2 separate regions of the Homo sapiens genome follow, and region 1 is linked to region 2. The links come from fine-mapping of genetic effects on plasma protein levels. Region 2 holds a variant in brackets. A gene starts in the other region. All regions are shown on their forward strands.

Evidence for each region. PIP is the chance, under the fine-mapping model, that this variant and not a neighbour inherited with it causes the effect. Protein levels are from antibody-based Olink assays in UK Biobank. Linkage for the fine-mapping came from a reference panel and not from the study's own genotypes, which makes the PIPs less certain.
Region 1: it holds the start of F10, and the variant in region 2 is fine-mapped to the plasma level of the F10 protein (UK Biobank, PIP above 0.99).

What each region holds. Positions count from the first base shown.
Region 1 is chr13:113,119,143-113,128,248 of GRCh38, forward strand. F10 (coagulation factor X) reads left to right here and starts at 3,657. Exons shown (of 8, transcript NM_000504.4): 1 at 3,657-3,783. The coding sequence starts at 3,714. F7 (coagulation factor VII) reads left to right here. Exons shown (of 8, transcript NM_019616.4): 8 at 1-1,543. F10-AS1 (F10 antisense RNA 1) reads right to left here. Exons shown (of 3, transcript NR_126424.1): 3 at 9,013-9,106.
Region 2 is chr9:114,312,317-114,321,428 of GRCh38, forward strand. LOC105376224 (a long non-coding RNA gene) reads right to left here and starts at 6,127. Exons shown (of 3, transcript XR_930255.3): 1 at 5,878-6,127. It overlaps COL27A1 (collagen type XXVII alpha 1 chain), which reads left to right. Exons shown (of 61, transcript NM_032888.4): 61 at 1-195. RefSeq lists an enhancer at 5,553-5,847. The variant A/G (reference allele first, on the strand shown) is at 4,691.

The sequences.
Region 1 (9,106 bases), not on the chromosome of region 2:
AGACAGAAACAGAGAGAGACAGAGACAGAGAGAGACTGAGGGAGAGACTCTGAGGACATGGAGAGAGACTCAAAGAGACTCCAAGATTCAAAGAGACTAATAGAGACACAGAGATGGAATAGAAAAGATGAGAGGCAGAGGCAGACAGGCGCTGGACAGAGGGGCAGGGGAGTGCCAAGGTTGTCCTGGAGGCAGACAGCCCAGCTGAGCCTCCTTACCTCCCTTCAGCCAAGCCCACCTGCACGTGATCTGCTGGCCTCAGGCTGCTGCTCTGCCTTCATTGCTGGAGACAGTAGAGGCATGAACACACATGGATGCACACACACACACGCCAATGCACACACACAGAGATATGCACACACACGGATGCACACACAGATGGTCACACAGAGATACGCAAACACACCGATGCACACGCACATAGAGATATGCACACACAGATGCACACACAGATATACACATGGATGCACGCACATGCCAATGCACGCACACATCAGTGCACACGGATGCACAGAGATATGCACACACCGATGTGCGCACACACAGATATGCACACACATGGATGAGCACACACACACCAATGCGCACACACACCGATGTACACACACAGATGCACACACAGATGCACACACACCGATGCTGACTCCATGTGTGCTGTCCTCTGAAGGCGGTTGTTTAGCTCTCACTTTTCTGGTTCTTATCCATTATCATCTTCACTTCAGACAATTCAGAAGCATCACCATGCATGGTGGCGAATGCCCCCAAACTCTCCCCCAAATGTATTTCTCCCTTCGCTGGGTGCCGGGCTGCACAGACTATTCCCCACCTGCTTCCCAGCTTCACAATAAACGGCTGCGTCTCCTCCGCACACCTGTGGTGCCTGCCACCCACTGGGTTGCCCATGATTCATTTTTGGAGCCCCCGGTGCTCATCCTCTGAGATGCTCTTTTCTTTCACAATTTTCAACATCACTGAAATGAACCCTCACATGGAAGCTATTTTTTAAAAACAAAAGCTGTTTGATAGATGTTTGAGGCTGTAGCTCCCAGGATCCTGTGGAATTGGATGTTCTCTCCCTGCCACAGCCCTTGTCAATGATATTTCACAGAGACCCTGGGAGCACCTGCTCAAGAGTCAGGGACACACGCATCACTAAATGCAAGTTCCCAGGCCCTGGCTGCAGTGGGAGGACCTGGCAAGCTGCACTCTTGCTGAGTCCCCAGGGTGGTGGAAGAAGAATGAGAAACACATGAACAGAGAAATGGGGAGGTGACAAACAGTGCCCCCACTCAGACTCCGGCAAGCACGGCTCAGAGAGTGGACTCGATGCCATCCCTGCAGGGCCGTCCTGGGCACCACTGGCACTCACAGCAGCAAGGTGGGCACCATTGGCACTCACAGCAGCAAGGCAGGCACCAGCAACCCACCTCGGGGGCACTCAGGCATCATCTACTTCAGAGCAGACAGGGTCTATGAACTACAGCCGTGGGCTGCTTCCAAGGCACCCTGCTCTTGTAAATAAAGTTTTATGGGAACACACCCATATTAGTGTCCATGGAGTGGCCGTGGCAGAGACGTCCAGCCGGACAGACCAGCTGACCCGCCAAGCCCAGCATGGTTAGTGTCAGGACCTCTGCTGAAGATGCTTGCTGACCCTGGCCAGACCCCGGTTCCTAATGCCCCCTAAACGGGACGGGAGCCAGTGGCGGGCCCTGATCCAGGTCAGAGCTGGCTCTGCTTTCTCTTTTGTCCGAGTGACCATGCCTCAGTTTCCTCATGTGTAAAACAGGAGCCCACCGTGATGCTTATGGTGGGATGAGATCAGCATGGATGGAACAAGGCCCTGGAAGGGCCCATGCCATGGTCATCGACAGCAAAGCCACTCTGCAGACAGATGCTTCAGTGAATTGGTAGAAAATTCTGCAACCAGAATGCCCGGGGCTCCTGAGGGCCTAAGCCCAGCCCAGGGTTCTGGAAGCCACTCTGACTTCTTGGGAGTGGAAGTTGGCAGGACTCTTCCTGGGAAGAAGCGGAGGGTGGGGATGAGAGGACAGTTCAGGAGCCCACCCAGACCCACAGGAGGAAACTAGGGGAGTCATGCGGGGTCCTGGTGGAGCGCCAGCCTCCCTTCCTGCCAATGGGAAATGCAGGCGCCCACCTCATGGTGCTGCCGGAGGAGGGGGCCCGGGACTCCCCAGAGGCTTCGCTGAAGGGCCTGGGCGCCCCCAAAGGCTACATGTTTCATATGGGACGTGCCACCTGCCACGGCTCAGCTCCAGCTTTCTGTGAGTGGCGAGATAGAATACGGGGAGGCCACTGGCCATGGGCCTGGGACAGGGTGGGATGAGGCGGCAGGCTTGGGCCACCAAAGCCAGCATCGCCACCCAGCATTGATGACAAAGACTGCGTGTCTGCCATGAGCATCCTGCTGTTGGTGCACACACCGCATTGGTCTCTCCATACAAACATGCCTAGAGGCGATGTCAGAGGGTGGAGACCAGGAGAGGCAGGAGTCAGACATCTGGTGCCACCAGGAAGGCCCTTCTCAGAGGACCAGGCTGTGCGTGGTGCCCGCCGTGGGAGGCCAGCCTGGCGTTGGCATCCAGCATCATCAGTTTGTGCAGTCGGGTGGGGCTCAGTGAGTGCCTCCTGTGTGCCAGGCACAATGACGCACAATGTGTGCACACCAGGCTCATGTGCAGGTGGCTGCGAGACAGGGCGACCCATCAAGGCAGATGCACCATGAGGCAGTGGCCAGTGCTGTGGGTGTTAGGGGCATTGCTCCCCGGCCACTACGGCATAGCAGGCAGTGATCGCCACACTGGCCAAGCTTTAGACCATTTATTCCAGAGACCCCAGAGGCAAAAAGCCCGGCTGCACCTCCCAGTGACTCCCACAGCCATTGAGCAGAGACACTCAGGACCTTGTGATGGGAGGTTTCTGCACTGGAGAACGAGCCCAGAAGCCCTCTCAGCCTCGGAACAGTGTGGCCAGTGGTGGGCAGGTCAGGAGGGGCTTCAGACACAGCCTGTCCCTCCAGATGGTCACGGGAAGGTCACTCCCCACAGAAGTACGTTTTGGGGCCATGCGGGCACAGAAGGTTTGGGGGTGGGTGGGGCAGGTGCCAGCCTGGCCTGTGGGAGGCCATGGTGCAGATGCCAAGCCCCCCCCGTGACATGAGACCACCTGATACCACCCAGAGAGTGGCTGTGAGCGGAAGGGCCCGCCCAGAAACAAGCAGGGCCTTGGGGCAGAAGTCCTGGGCTCAGATCCCACGCTCACTGCCAGCGGCCTCGGCTCAGGCTTCTGCGCTCTCTAAACTTAGTTTTCTCTTCTGGAAAAATGATGGGGAAAATGATATTTGTATGTGAGGACTGAGAGTTAAATGTAAACATCTGGAAACTACAAAATGAGCACGAAATGATGTTTTTATTCTTAGAACAGAAAGTCCCCACACCCGCGGCCCTGGTGACTGATGAGGATGAGGTTCTGCGGGGCCTCTCTGGCCGCCCAGCTCTGCCTGGGGAAGGTGGGGCCAGAGTGGATGTGTTCCCAGCGTGGTCACTCCCCTGCCTCGCCAGCAGGTCTCGGCTCCAATCAGGAGGCCTAAGCCAAGTGATAAGCAGCCAGACAACAGCCATCCCAGCTGGGGCGTGGACTTTGCTCCAGCAGCCTGTCCCAGTGAGGACAGGGACACAGTACTCGGCCACACCATGGGGCGCCCACTGCACCTCGTCCTGCTCAGTGCCTCCCTGGCTGGCCTCCTGCTGCTCGGGGAAAGTCGTAAGTGCCCCTCGCCCTTCAGACCCAAAAGCAGCGCCAGGGAGCAGGGAGGGGCGGCAGTTGGGGAAACCCTCTCATCTCTGCAGCCTGGACGGTGGGTGCCTTGAGTGCTGCCAGAGGCTGGGCTCGGATGGCTGGGCTTGGCCTTTCCAGCCAACGGCATCCTCAAGGCCAGCTGTGGCTCCCTGGGGCTGAGAGTCAGACGGGCGGATCAGAGGTCACAGAGACAAAAACACAAGGACAGAGTCAGAGAGAGAAAGGGAGAGGGAAGGAGAAACGGAGACACAGTGAGATGGGAGGCCAAGAGGCAGAGACAGAGGTAGAAAGACGGAGACAGAGAGAGAGGGAGGGGTTGGGGCAGGCAGAGACAGGACAGTTAGCCATCTGCCACCACAGGGAGGCACAGGACGAGGGGCACAGCAGAGGAGCTCCCAGGGAGGAGGAGGCTGAGCCGAGCCAGTGCCACCACTCTCGGACTGGCTCCGTCGGGGAAGGAGCTGCCTAATGCACAGCTGGACAGGTGGGGGCAGCAGGGCTGTCCAGGACCCCCGGGTCTGTCCAAAAGCAGAGGCCCAGACAGGACAGAAGCCAGGCAAGCCTGGGGACAGCGGAGGAAGAGGAGGCCCCTCTGGTGGGGACACGAGAGACAGGGACCCTAGACTTGTTTGCATCCTGGACAAAGTGGACAGGCAGGGGCACCAAGGGGACCCAGGCCTGGGAAGGGAATGTGTGAGGGAGAGACGGAGCAGGGGGAGACCCTCGTGGGGTGGAAAGGGGAGACCCCTGGGAAGGCTGAGTGGATCCTCAGTGCATCACTGACCTAAACGGCCCCTCCGCCTGGTGACTTGGAGCTCCAGTCACATCACACGGGGGTCTTCTCCATCCCACCCTCAACCCCCTGCCCTCCCCAGCCTCTGTCCCCTGAGCCACATCTTCCTGTCTCCCACGCGGAACGGGACTCCCGTCTTCATGGGGTACTGTGTGGCTCCAACTCGCCCAGCCTTCTTCCTCCCCCTCAGGCCACACTGCCCCCTGCAGGAGCCCACTGTGATGCTTGTGGTGGGATGAGATCAGCGTGGGTGGAACAAGGCCCTGGAAGGACCCATGCCATCATCATCGACAGCAAAGCTACTCTGCAAACAGACAGATGCTTCCGCGAATTGGTAGAAAATTCTGCAGCCGGAATGCTCTAGGATCCTGAGGCCCTAAGCCCGGCCCGGGGCTCCCGAGGCCCTAAGCCCGGCCCGGGACTCTGGAAGCTGCTCTGGCTTATTGGGAATGGAAGTTGGCAGGACTCCTCTTCCTGGGAAGAAGCAGAGGGTGGGGATGAGAAGACAGGCCAGGAGCCCACCCAGACCCACAGGAGGAAACTAGGGGAGTTATGCAGAGTCCTGGTGGAGCGCCAGCTTCCCTTCCTGCCAATGGGAAATGCAGGCGCCCACCTCGCGGACCTCTGGGTCCACAGGGTATTGGCACCCTTAGCTGTGTGATGCGGGCCTGGCTCATAACCATGGCCTGTGGTGTCCCCGGGGGCCGGCCTGGACCCTGGGTGGACATGGCCAGCCCCGGAGAGCCAGGGCCAGGCCATCTCTCTCCCCTACTCTGCCTCAGAGGCCTCGGCAGCTGCACTGTGGGGTGGGTGGGGCTGAACACAGGTCCCAGAAGGTCCCACTCAGGACCCTGCTGTGCACACTTTTGATTTTAATAAAATCAGAATGCGCACAGCATCTGCAGTCTAGCCTTTAAACGAGCACAGCTGTCCTGGCAGTCACGGAAGTTCTTCTGGGGCGGTGGGACCTCAGCATTCCTTTGCTGGTACTGCTACAAGAAAGGACAATGGACCAAGTAGCTTAAAGCAACAGAAACATTTCTCCCACAGCTCTGGAGGCTGGAAGTTCAAAATCAAGGCGTCAGCGGGGCTGGTTCCTCCAGAGGCTGGGAGAGAGTCTGCTCTAGGCCTGTTTCCTGGCCTCGGGGTGCCAGCGGCCTCACAGCCCATGGCTTGTGGGAGCATTGCTCCCATCGCTGCCTCCATCATCGCATGGGGTTCTCACCATGGCTGTTTTTCTGTCTTCTTTTCTCTCAGAAGGACACCAGTCATTGGATTTAGGGCTCACTCTACTCCCATAAAATGTCTTCCTAACTAAATACATCACAAAAGTTCTATTTCCAATTAAGGTCAGGTTCTGAGGTTCTGGGAAAGACATGAATTTGGAGGGACATTATTCAGCCCTGTCCTGCCACCTGTGAGTGTTTTCTGCAATCCAACTTTTTATTTTAATAAAATCAGAATACGCAGAGCACCTGCAGTGCCAGCCTTTAAACTACTGCTGTTGTACTGGCAATCATTAAAGCTACGTGGCTTCAGTTTCAATCTTTACATTCAACAAGTTTAAACCCATTCTTCATGAGTTTGGACCTTACTGACTGAAAATTTTGCTTGCTGGTAAAACTTGCTCAAATGCAGTTGCTGACTGTGGAATTCACTGATGTTGCCAAAACAACAAACACAACTGTGTGCTCGAGGATTGCAATGCTCCCAACAGCTTCTGAAGAAACAAACCACACGACAAATGTCTACCAATCTGGATGCTCCATATCAGAGTTCTAGAGTGTTCCATTAATTTCTTGAGACAAGTGCCTAAAAACCTTGTTTTAATTTCGTTTTGCCAAAATCCCATTTTACTCACATCAGAAAGTGTGGCCACGTGGCCCAGACCCGGCCTGCTCAGTCTGACTGAAGCGTTGATGCGACTCAGCCATAACAGATAGCAGAAGCGCCCAGATTCAGTCCAGAGGGCTGAGCCAGGCACGCCATCTTTCCTTCATTCCCTCAACACATATTGGTTAAGTTCCGGCCGTGCTAGGCACGGGCATACAGCTGTGACCAAACACGTCAAGTCTTTTTCCAGCGGAGGGAAGGATAAGCCTGTCAGCATGTAATGTCAGAGAGGGGTTGGGTGCTAGAAGACAAATAGCACAGTGTAAGGGGATGAAAGAGACACGAGTGGGGGCAACGTCAGAGGGCGTGGTCAGGGAGGGTGTCTCGGAGGGCGCTGGGCCTGAGCCACTTGGGTATCTGTGGAAAGAATGTTCCAGACAGGGAGGTGACTGGTGCAAAAGTCCTGGGGTGTGAGTGTTGGGCTCAGCCAGGGTCAGCGCAGAGCCCAGTGTGGCAGAGAGAGGTGAATGAGGGCAGAGTTGAAGGTGGTGAGGCCTGGGAGGCCTGGCCATGGGAAGACCCTGGGCTCTGTTCTAAGACCACTAGAGGCAGATTCTGGGTAGTCCTTGACTTCCTTGCATCACCCTTTCCACCCCGTGCCTGCCACCTGTACCCTCTTCCTCACACAGTCCAGCTCAACCTTATAGGCCGTGTCCTACCCCCATGAGCTGGGGAGAGCTGAGCAGGCTTCAGGGAGATGGGAAAAGGCGGGAACTGGACAGGGGCTGCAAAGGAAAGGTGACTTCTTACTGGTCAATCAGCCTGGGGATGCTCGGGGGTGGATGCCAAGGGGAACAGAGCTGTGGCCGCTATCACAGAACAGCGAGTTCCTCTAAGAGGTCAGAGGAGGCGCAAGGGATCGACCAGAGACAGTGAGGGCGTCAGGCTCCAGTTGAGTGGGGACCAATCCTTGTGGCAAGTCTGTGAACCATCACTGTGGCTCTAGGGTAGCAGAGAAAAAAGCAGGCATATGTCCATCTGGCCACAAGGAAGGAGACCAAGGGGAAGAGAGAAGGTACCAAGAGAGGTGTTCACATGGAGGTGCGTCAGAACACCGAGGGCAAGGCAGAACGCGGTCTTCAGACCCCAACTGGAGCCCAGGAGGCCCGCGAGTCCCAGTTTGGGAAACACTAAGCCAGGCTTGGATAACTTGTCTGAGGCTGTGGTCATCCCAACATGAGAGCCAGAGGCCCCAAGGGAGATGGGCATTCCCCACCCCTCAGCTTCCTCAGTGCCTTTTGTGGAGTGGAGGTGACATGAGGCTGCAGGTTGCAGGGAGCCACGTGTGGGCTGCATTTCAGAGCAAGTGTGTGGGAGTGGAGCAGACACGCAGAGTAATGGGGCAGGGTCAAGAAATAATAAATCTAAGTCTAGCGTTGGTGGGATAATGTCGGTGTCACTAAAAGAAATGGGGAATTTGGAAGGTAAAGTAACTGGAGGTAGGAATGAACCCAAGATTTACTAAGCACCTTCTGTATACCAAACTCAACACTAGGAGTTTATACAATCTTTAAAACAGCTCTAAGAGTAGATATTATAATTCCCTTCTGCCAATAATAAATAATAAGTGACTAAGGTGTTTTTGAAGCTCAAGATTGCTTGATTCTGCAGTCTTGTTTTAAATTTTGGACATGGAGAGTTTGGAGTTCTGAGATGAGGGAAGGCATCTGTCATAGTGAGAGAGCTGAAAACATGGAGCTCAGGACAAAAGTCAGTGCTAGAGAGATCAGTTGGAAGAGTTATCTTTATTGTAGTGAGACATTGAATTTTTCAGTGGAAAAAAAGCACAGAAAAAGACTACAGAGGGCCAAGAAAAGAAACTGAGGCTGTCAAAATGAAAAGAGGAGGAGGAGTGGGTGAGAGACAAAGGAGACACAGGCAGAGAGATGTGGACAGCACAGCCCACAGACACACACTCTACAAGGGACACAGACTCTCGGATCCAGGGCATTTTAACCAGCAGATCAAGACTCATTTGCCAGTCATGAAATCAACTCAGTATTTTTTTTTAAAAGAGTAGAATCAAATAGAAAACTTTGTACTAAGTACTGTATTTTAGGAAATACTAATAAATACTATTTCTTGAAAGTTGGCATGTATGTGTGTCCTGGCACTTCATAAATTGTACTATTATAGTTTGTAATTGAAACAGCATCACCAATCCCCACATAACAAAGAGCAGAGACCTTAAAGACGAGTGGGGCCAGGCTGAAGGGGCACAGCTTGAGCCAAAGCACAGAACAGTGGGCTGAAAGCACCCTAGGGAGGGAGAATTCAAGGAAGGGGGCTTGGGTGGCCAGGCTGAGCCAGCGTGAGCATGTGAGGAGGCTGGTGAGCTGATTGGGTGGGATGTGTCTACTTCTCCAGAGAAGGGTGCATGGGTCTAGAGCAGGTGCCTCATGCTGTACCTCATAGAGAACTGGGGGGAGGGGGGAAATGGGCATTTCCCTCCACAGCCCCCAAAGTGCCTGAGGAAAGTGTTGATAAAGAAGCCAAACTCTGTAAAATATTTGAAGAGATTTATTCTGAGCCAAATGTGAGGACCACGACCCATGACACAGCCTTGGAAGGTCCTGAGAACATGTGTCCAAGGTAGTTGGG
Region 2 (9,112 bases):
GCAGCTCGGGCCTCATCTCAGCGCTCGGATCCCTCCTGCTGCCAGAATCCACTGGCCTCTGTCTCATTCTTGGGTTTTCCTGCTGTCTTCGTTTACGTCTCTGTCCACATGTCAGTGTATTAAAACCCCAATGGGTTCCGTTTCTCCTTTTCCCCTCTGGATTTTAAATAAATATTTAAAACTGAGGCAATGGAATGACACGCCTGTGGTCCCGTGCTGCTTCTCAAAGCTCAGGGGGGCAGTTTCTGGCTGGGCTGGGATAGGGAGTGGGAGGAGATGCTCAGAGGATGTCCTCCTTACGCTGTAACAAATACCACAAACTTGGTGGCTGCAAACAACACAGAACCGTCTCTCTCGCAGTTCTGGAGGCCAGAAGTTCACACAGGCAGTGTTGGCAGGGCCACACTCCCTCCAAAGCCTCAAGGGGAGGATCTTTCCTTGCCTCTTCCCGCTCCTGGTAGCCCCAGTCATTCCTTGGCTTGCAGCTGCAGCACTTCGGTCTGTGTCCCTGTGGTGACACGTGTTCTGATGTGTCTCTCTGCTCCATCTTCTCTTTATGAGGACCCCAGTCATATTGGATTAGAGCCCACACTCATGACCCCACCTTAACTTACTTTCATCTGCAAAGGCCTTATCTCCAAATGAGGTCACATTCACTGGTGCAGGGGGTTAGGACATATCTTTTGGGGGGACACGATTCAACTCCTAACACACAGGGAGGAGGTACACTGAGGTTAACATGAGCAATTTGTTTTTATTATTATTGTGGTTAATTACACATAACATAAAATTTGCCACTGGTGATAGTACATTCAGAATGGTGTGCAACGTTACCATGATCTAATTTCGTATTATTTTCATCACCCCTAAAGGAAACCTGTACCCATTTTAGCAGTCCCACCCTCCCCCAACCCCTGGAAAATCACCAGCCTGCTTTCTGTGTCCACGGCTCTGCCTACTCCAGACATTTTATATTACATTGGTGCCAAAGTAATTGCGGTTTTTGTCATTACTTCTAAATGGCAAAAACCGCAATTACTTTGGCACCGACCTAATACAAGTGGAATCATACAGTATGTGGCCTTTTGTGACCCCGGCCTCTTTCACTCAGCGTGATGTTTTCAAGATTCATCTGTGTCGTAACGTGTATCAGTACTTCATTCTTTTTATGGTTGAATGTACTCCATTGCATGGATAAACCACATTTTGTTTACCTACTCATAAGCTGATGGATATTTGAGCCAAACTGGTGGACATTTGGGCTGTTTCTACCTTTGGCTATTGTGAATAATGCTTCAAAAGGAGTGATCCCTGCCTGTCACATTCTTGAGAGAAGTCACAATAGTACCTGCCACGGAAGAAGTGAGTGGGTGTGAGTCTGGGAGATGGCGTTGCCAGACTTAAAAAATAAAACTATAGGATGCCCAGATCAATTTGAATTTCAGATAAACAATAGCTATTTTTTAGTACAAGTATGCTCCATGCAATTTTGAGGAAATGCTTATGCTAGAAATCTTTTTATTTGTTATTTATCTGAAATTTATACGTATCTGAGTATCCTGGCCTGGAGCCCACATTTCCTGACCCTTGTTTCAGATCTCTTTCTTCCTCAGCTTATTCCTCCTTCCCTGGGACAATGAATAATCAGAACTTTTCTGCCATTCTCATTGAGGAGAAAGAGCACATCACTAACAGTTGAGTTTATACCCAGGATTTTATATTTTAAAAACTTGCAGCCGGGCGCGGTGGCTCACGCCTGTAATCCCAGCACTTTGGGAGGCCGAGGTGGGCGGATCACGAGGTCAGGAGATCGAGACCATCCTGGCTAACACAGTGAAACCCCGCCTCTACTAAAAATAGAAAAAAAATTAGCTGGGTGTGGTGGCGGGTGCCTGTAGTCCCAGCTACCCAGGAGGCTGAGGCAGGAGAATGGTGTGAACCTGGGAGGCGGAGCTTGCAGTGAGCTGAGATGGCGCCACTGCACTCCATATTAAGGGATTTATTATATGAAATTGGCTCATGCAATGATGGAAGCTGACAAATCTTAAGATTGGCTGCTGGCAGCTTTGAGACCCAGGAAAACCCAACGGTTCAGTTCAAGTCCAAAGGCAGGGAAAAAACCTGTCCCAGCTTGAAGGCAGTCAGGCAGAAGGAATTCGCTCGTACTCAGCCTGTTTGTTCTATTCAGGCCTTCAACTGATTGGATGAAGCCCAGCCACATTGGGGAGGGCCATCTGCTTTACTCAGTCTCCCATGGGATTACCCAAATGTTAATCCCATCCAAAAACACCTTCACAGACACACCCAGAATAGTGTTTGGCCAAATATCTGGGCACCCTGTGGCCCAGTCAAGGTGATACATAAAATTAACCATCACACTCCTCAAGCTGAGGTTGAAAGAGAAGGAATAGAAGTGAGCCAGATGGGGAAGGGCACTTGGGGTAGAGGGAACAGTGCCTGCCAAGGCCCAGAGGTAAAGGTAGCACTTTGCATTTGGGAACGGTAAGTGTTCCCATGTGGGGCTGCAGGAAAGGGTGAGGAAGCCTGCGGTATGGAGCTGGGAACATGACAAGTCACAGGTTTGCACAGATGAGCAGAGGTCTGAGTTGGCAAGTTGGGTTTGACTGCCATGGGGCCCTGGAGCAGAGCCATCCAGGAGGCAGCTGCCTGCGCTGCGAGGAAAGGAGAGAGGTCTGCACTGCACTCAGAGCTCTGGAGGCATCAGCAGTTTCTGCTAGGCCTGGAAGACATGGGTAGAGATTGAAAAAGCCAGCCAGAAGGGCCAGAGGGGGAAAGCAAGAAGAGCCATGTTAGAACTGTGACACTCACGACTCTCGGCCTGGTCTCCAATCCCAGGTGGGCCAGTGAGGATGCTGGAGCTGGGCCAGCTCATTCCCAGCAGGGGCAGATAGGAGGTTGTTGGGGACAGAAGGAAACTTTTCCTAAACTGGCAGTACCCACAGTTCCCAATCTCCTGTTGCACAACTGAGTGTCAGGAAACAGTCAGGTGGACTTCCCAGGCTGGGCCAACTCCAGGGGAAAGCCCAGGCCAGCCTGTTTGCCCTGTTCACAATGAATCAAACCCTAGCTATGGTCACAACCCATAATGGCCGGCAGCCCAGGATTGGAAAAATGAGGAAAAGAAGAGCGAGAAAAAGAGAGGCTGGCAGGCAGATTCCAGTTCCTGACTGGGACATGGCCCTGGGTAGGTCATTCTTTCTCTCTAGGCCTCAGTTTCTCTCTCTGCAAAATGGGGCCGATATGCTCTGCCTTTCTTGCCAGCCACAGAAAGGACTATTGTTCAATAATAGTAGAGTGAACGGTATGAAATAGAATAATATCCAATGCTTTTGGACCTGCAAAACCCAGTTTCATATGGTTCAACCCAAGAATAGCACCATTCAGAAGAATAATGGCTACAATTTCTTGTGCATGGACGGCACACCAGGTGGCATGCTCGGTGCGATCTCATGCGCATGTGCATGTGATCCCACATTTTCATCTCATACACAATCTCGTGGGACACATGTTGTAACCCTGGCTTTTCAGATGAGGAAACTGAAGTTCAAAGAGGTTTCTTAAGTTGCCCAAGATCACAAAACAGGATTTGAACTTGAGAAAATCTTTTTGGGTCTTTCCTCAGCCCAGTCACAGAGTTCCCCATGAGGACAATTTGCTCAGCCTATGTATTCTCATGTGGAAGCAGGTCACAGGTTGGTCTTACACAGACCTTGGCTCTGGCCTTGATGAAGAAGGGTGGAATGTGACTTTTTCAGGAAATGAAGTGTTTCAAACAGGTGCATTTCCCTGATGACTTCCAGCTCACCTGCTGTGTGACGTTTCCCACACTGCCTCGCCTCTCTGGGCCACTTTTTTCCTCATCTATATAATGGGGGGAATGTCTTATTTTCTTGAGCCTAGGATAGACACGTTTTCATGTTTTGATATCTTTAAAAGAGAGATGTAGCTTGCAATCACTGAAGTACATATGCAATGCAGAAATTTTTCTTCCCTCCTCACCCCAGCTTGTCTGGGGGATGGTTAAACTGACAGCGATAGTTATTATAATCAGAAGACCCTTAGGAGCAAATTTATTTTATTTAACAAGCATTTTATGGGTGTGGTAGCTCATGCCTGTAAACCCAGCACTTTGGGAGGCTGAAGTGGGAGGATCACTTGAGCCCGGGAGTTCGAGACCAGCCTGGGCAACATAGTGAGACCTCCCATCCCTACCAAAAAATTTTAAGAACTTTAAAAAACCAAGCATTACAACTATGTACCAATTTAATCTTCATAACAACCCAATGAAGTAGGTACCACTATTATTCTCATTTTACAGGTAGAGATACTGAGGCACAGAGAAGTTCACCAACTTGCGCTTCACCACCAGCCTGTACTGCCTGCCCTGAGGCCTTTTCTCTCTCTTTTGTTCCTGCCTAACTTCTTTTGACATCCTGCCAGGGCCAGATGGAGGATAGGGCCAGACGAGCTAGAAGGACTACTTAAAGCCTCAGTCTTTAGAGGCATTCATGCATACCTGAAATGTTAGGAGACAGAGAAAATTGTACTGTGGTAGGGTAGGTGCCAGATGAGCTTGGAGGAATTACTTGGATAGTCTAAGGTGGAGAGTGAGACCCCCAAGCGGCAGCCTGAGGGACAGTGAGGACACTGAAGACCACTTACTCCTGCC[A/G]AGGAGAGGCACTCGGAAGCGCCTCTGTACTGCATTCACAGTGCACAGCTCCGCTTTGAATGGTGGTAGCTCTCCTTATTCACCCTTCCCCTACACAGGCTGCGCCTGGGATCTCTACACTCGAGCAGACGGAGACCCCAGACCCCATTGGCCTAAGTGCCTGAACGTTATAAATCAAAAGTATTTTAAATGAAGCTGACATGTTTACATTTAAGTTTTAGAAATTTAATTAATTATCCCAGCACTTTGGGAGGCTGAGGCGGGTGGATCACAAGGTCAGGAGATCGAGACCATCCTGGCTAACCCGGTGAAACCCTGTCTCTACTAAAAAAATACAAAAAAATATTAGCCGGGCATGGTGGCGGGCGCCTGTATTCCCAGCTACTCAGGAGGCTGAGGCAGGAGAATGGCGTGAACCCAGGAGGTGGAGCTTGCAGTGAGCTGAGATTGTGCCACTGCACTCCAGCCTGGGCAACAGAGCGAGACTCTGTCTCGAAAAAAAAAAAAAAAGAAATTTAATTAATTAATTAAATCATGTCCAAAAGATTTGTACAACTGAAAATTATTCACGAGGCTAGCATGCAGCCTCTACATGCCCATGTCAAGAACCAGATTCAATTGTCCTGATGCAGTGACTCACAACTGTAATCCCAGCACTTTGGGAGGTCGAGGCAGGCAGATCATTTGAGGTCAGGAGTTTGAGACGAGCCTGGCCAACATGATGAAACCCCGTCTGTACTAAAAATACAAAAATTAGCCAGGTGTGGTGGCAGGCGCCTGTAATCCCAGTTATTCAGGAGGCTGAGGCCGGAGAATTTCTTGAACCTGGGAGATGGAGGTTGCAGTAAGCCAAGATTGTGCCACTGCACTCCAACCTGGGTGACAGAGCCAGACTCTGTCTCAAGAAAATAAAGAGAAAAAGAACTAGATTCAGGCTGTATGTGGGCACCATCTACAGACATCAGACACACACATTTAGGAGTAATAATGATGCAATATTGCCAAATGTTTCTCAGCAACCATGTGCAACTGTTGCATGTACTGTTTATTTCTAACTCAGGAGGATCTCTCTAACCACACATTGCAAGAAAATAGACTTTCAGTGTTTCTGGCAAAACAAAGAGTTTTTTTGTTGGCATTTATGCTGAAAGGGAAGAGTTAAAATGTTAATTTGTCTTTTTTCTTACCTCCAAGTTCACTCAAATCCTCTCTTGAAGCAGTGTCTGTCTCCTATGTCTGCGGTGGCATCATCCACGAAGTATCAGGACATTTGACCTGTTGTTTTCAGAGTCGAGTGCCACATGTAGAGATTGTTTCCTGGGGCCTAAACAGTGTTGGTTGTGAAAGAGAATAATCAGTGATGTGGGTCCCACTGTGCCAGTACCAGGCACCAGATCCCAAAGGACAGAGGTGCTTATCTGTTATTTAATAAACTGTTGTGTGTGGGTGGGTGTGTGGGTGGGTGTGATATGTGGGGCTCTCTAAATCCCTGGGCCCCAATAGTCCAGGTCTAATGGTGGTGCTGTCCCCAACAATGCTCAGCTTCTCCTCAAAATACATGGTATCTGGGCTGGGCACGGTGGCTTACACCTGAAATCCCAGCACTTTGGAAGGCCGAGGCGGGTGGATCACTTGAGGTCAGGAGTTCAAGATCAGCCTGGCCAACATGGCGAAACCCTGTCCGTACCAAAAATACAAAAGAAATTAGCCAGGTGTGGTAGTGACACCTGTAATCCCAGCTACTAGGGAGGCTGGATAGGAGAATTGCTGGAACTCGGGAGGCGGAGGCTGCAGTGAACTGAGATCGTGCCACTGCACTCCAGCCTGGGCGACAGAGTGAAACCTTGTCTCAGATAGATAGATAGATAGATGATAGATAGATAGATAGATAGATAGATAGATAGATAGATGATAGATAGATGATAGATAGATTAGATAGATAGATAGATAGATAGATAGATAGAGATAGATGATAGATGATAGGTAGGTAGATAGATGATAGATAGATAGATAGATAGATAGATAGGTAGATAGATGATAGATAGATAGATGTTAGATAGATGAATGGTATCTGGAGTCTGTCCCCATCATCTCACCCCTGGACCACTGCATCAGCTCCAGCTGGTTTCTCAGGTTTAATCTCCTTCCCTAGCCCTCCCCATTCTTCCCATTCAGACAGAGCGATCTTTCTGAAGAACCAATCTGGTTATGCCTTTCCAACCCCTTTGAAATCTTTCCATTTCTCTCCTACACCTCCTAAGTCTAGCGAACCCCTCAGCCTGGCTTCCATGCCCTGCAGGCTCCATCTCCTGCCAACCTCTTCAACATAAAGTCTGGCCACTCCCACTTATCATGTGCTCCAGCTGCACAGACTTTCCAGCTCCCTGATACACCCACTCTCTCACCTGCGCTCTTCCCTCTTGATAACTCCAATCATTGTTTCAAGCCTCAAATTAGAGCAATGCAAATTCAAGAAACAAACCAAGCTGGCAAAAACACAAAAAAGAAAGGAAAAAAAAAGGGTCATTTCTGTTCTGACAAGGATGGGGATAAGGAGACTCACTTGTACACTGCCAAACTGACATTCAAAATCCTTAGTGCTTTTGGATTTGTCATGTTTGGGAGGAGGGTTTTTAAATCATCGGCTTTCTTGAGGTTGAATAAATAAAAGAAAATGCACACATTTTAGGTTTACTGTTCAATTAGTTTTTACAACTATACGTGTGTGTGTATAATGGCCACCACGATGACAACCTGGATCGTTGTCATCCACTTCAGTGTTCTCTCATATGCTTTTGCAGTCAAATTGCCCTCTTTTGCCCTTGGCAACCACTGATCTGATTTCTAAAATTATAGATTTGTTTGAGCTGTTCTAGAACAGAACCGTACAGTATATAAGCTCCTTTGTATCTGGCTTCTTTTGTTCAGCATAGTGTTTTTGAGATTCATCCATGGTGTTATATGTATCAATAGTTTAACTATTTTTATTGTTAAGTAATATTCCTTTGTAAGAAAATGCCACATTTTTATTTACCATTTTCCTGTTGATGGGCATTTGGATTGTTTCTTTCTTTTTTTTTGGTTTTTGTTTTTGCTTTTGTTTTTGTTTTTTAGACAGTCTTGCTCTGTCACCAGGCTGGAGTGCAGTGGCACGATCTCGGCTAACTGCAAGCTCCACCTCCCAGGTTTGAGCGATTCTCCTGCCTCAGCCTCCTGAGTAGCTGGTACTACAGGCGCATGCCACCACACTCAGCTAATTTTTGTATTTTTAGTAGAGACGGAGTTTCTCCATGTTGGCCAGGCTTGTCTCGATCTCTTGACCTTGTGATCCGCCCACCTCGGCCTCCCAAAGTGCTGGGATTACAGGCGTGAGCCGTGGTGCCCCACCCTTGGATTATTTCTAATTTTGGCTATTTTGAGCAATGCTGTTATGAACATTAATATGTAAGACTTTGTGCATAGCACGTGGTTTCCTTTCCCTTGGATACTAAGGTAATTTTAAAAGGGAAATTGGCTGCTCTCTGACACTTATCATCAGAGGAAAAATCACAATATGAAATGCTGTTAGATAGGCTGGGAGTGGTGGCTCACGCCTATAATCCAGCACTTTGGGAGGCTGAGGCAGGAGGATCACTTGAGGCCAGAAGTTCAAGACCAGTCTGGGCAACATAGTGAGACTCTGTCTCTACAATTTTTTGTTTTTTAAATTTAATTAGCCAAGTGTGGTGGTGCATGCCTGTAGTCCTAGCTACTCCAGAGGCTGAGGTGGGAGGATTGCTTGAGCCCAGGAGTTTGAGGCTGCAGTTGAGCTATGATTCATACCACTGCACTCCAACTTGAAGAGCCTGAAAAAAAAAAAAAAGTGCTGTAGACATAAAGGACATGACTAAGTAGGTTAGAATATAGTAAGCGGGCCAGGCGCCGTGGCTCATGCCTGTAATCCCAGTACTCTGGGAGGCCGAGGTGGGCAGATTGCTTAAGCTCAGGAGTTCGAGACCAACCTGGGCAACATGATGAGACCCCCATCTCTACAAAAGTACAAAAAGTTAGCCAGGTGTGGTGGCACGCACCTGTGGTCCTAGCTACTCGGGAGGCTGAGCTGGGAGGATCTCTTGAGCCTGGGTGGCAGAGGTTGCAGTGAGCCAAGATCCCACCACTACACTCCAGCCTGGGCGACAGAGTGAGATGCCATTTCAGAACAAAAACAAAAACAAAAAAAGAATAGAGTAAGTGAATGAAAAGTTGTGCATCCATTACACTTTTATTTATTTATTTATTTATTTATTTTTGAGACAGGGTCTCTTGCTCCATCATACAGGCTGGAGTGTAGTGGCAAAATCACAGCTTACTGCAGCTTTGAACTCCTGGGCTCAAGCAATCTTCCAGCCTCAGAGTCCAGAGTAGCTAGGCTTTCAGGTACAT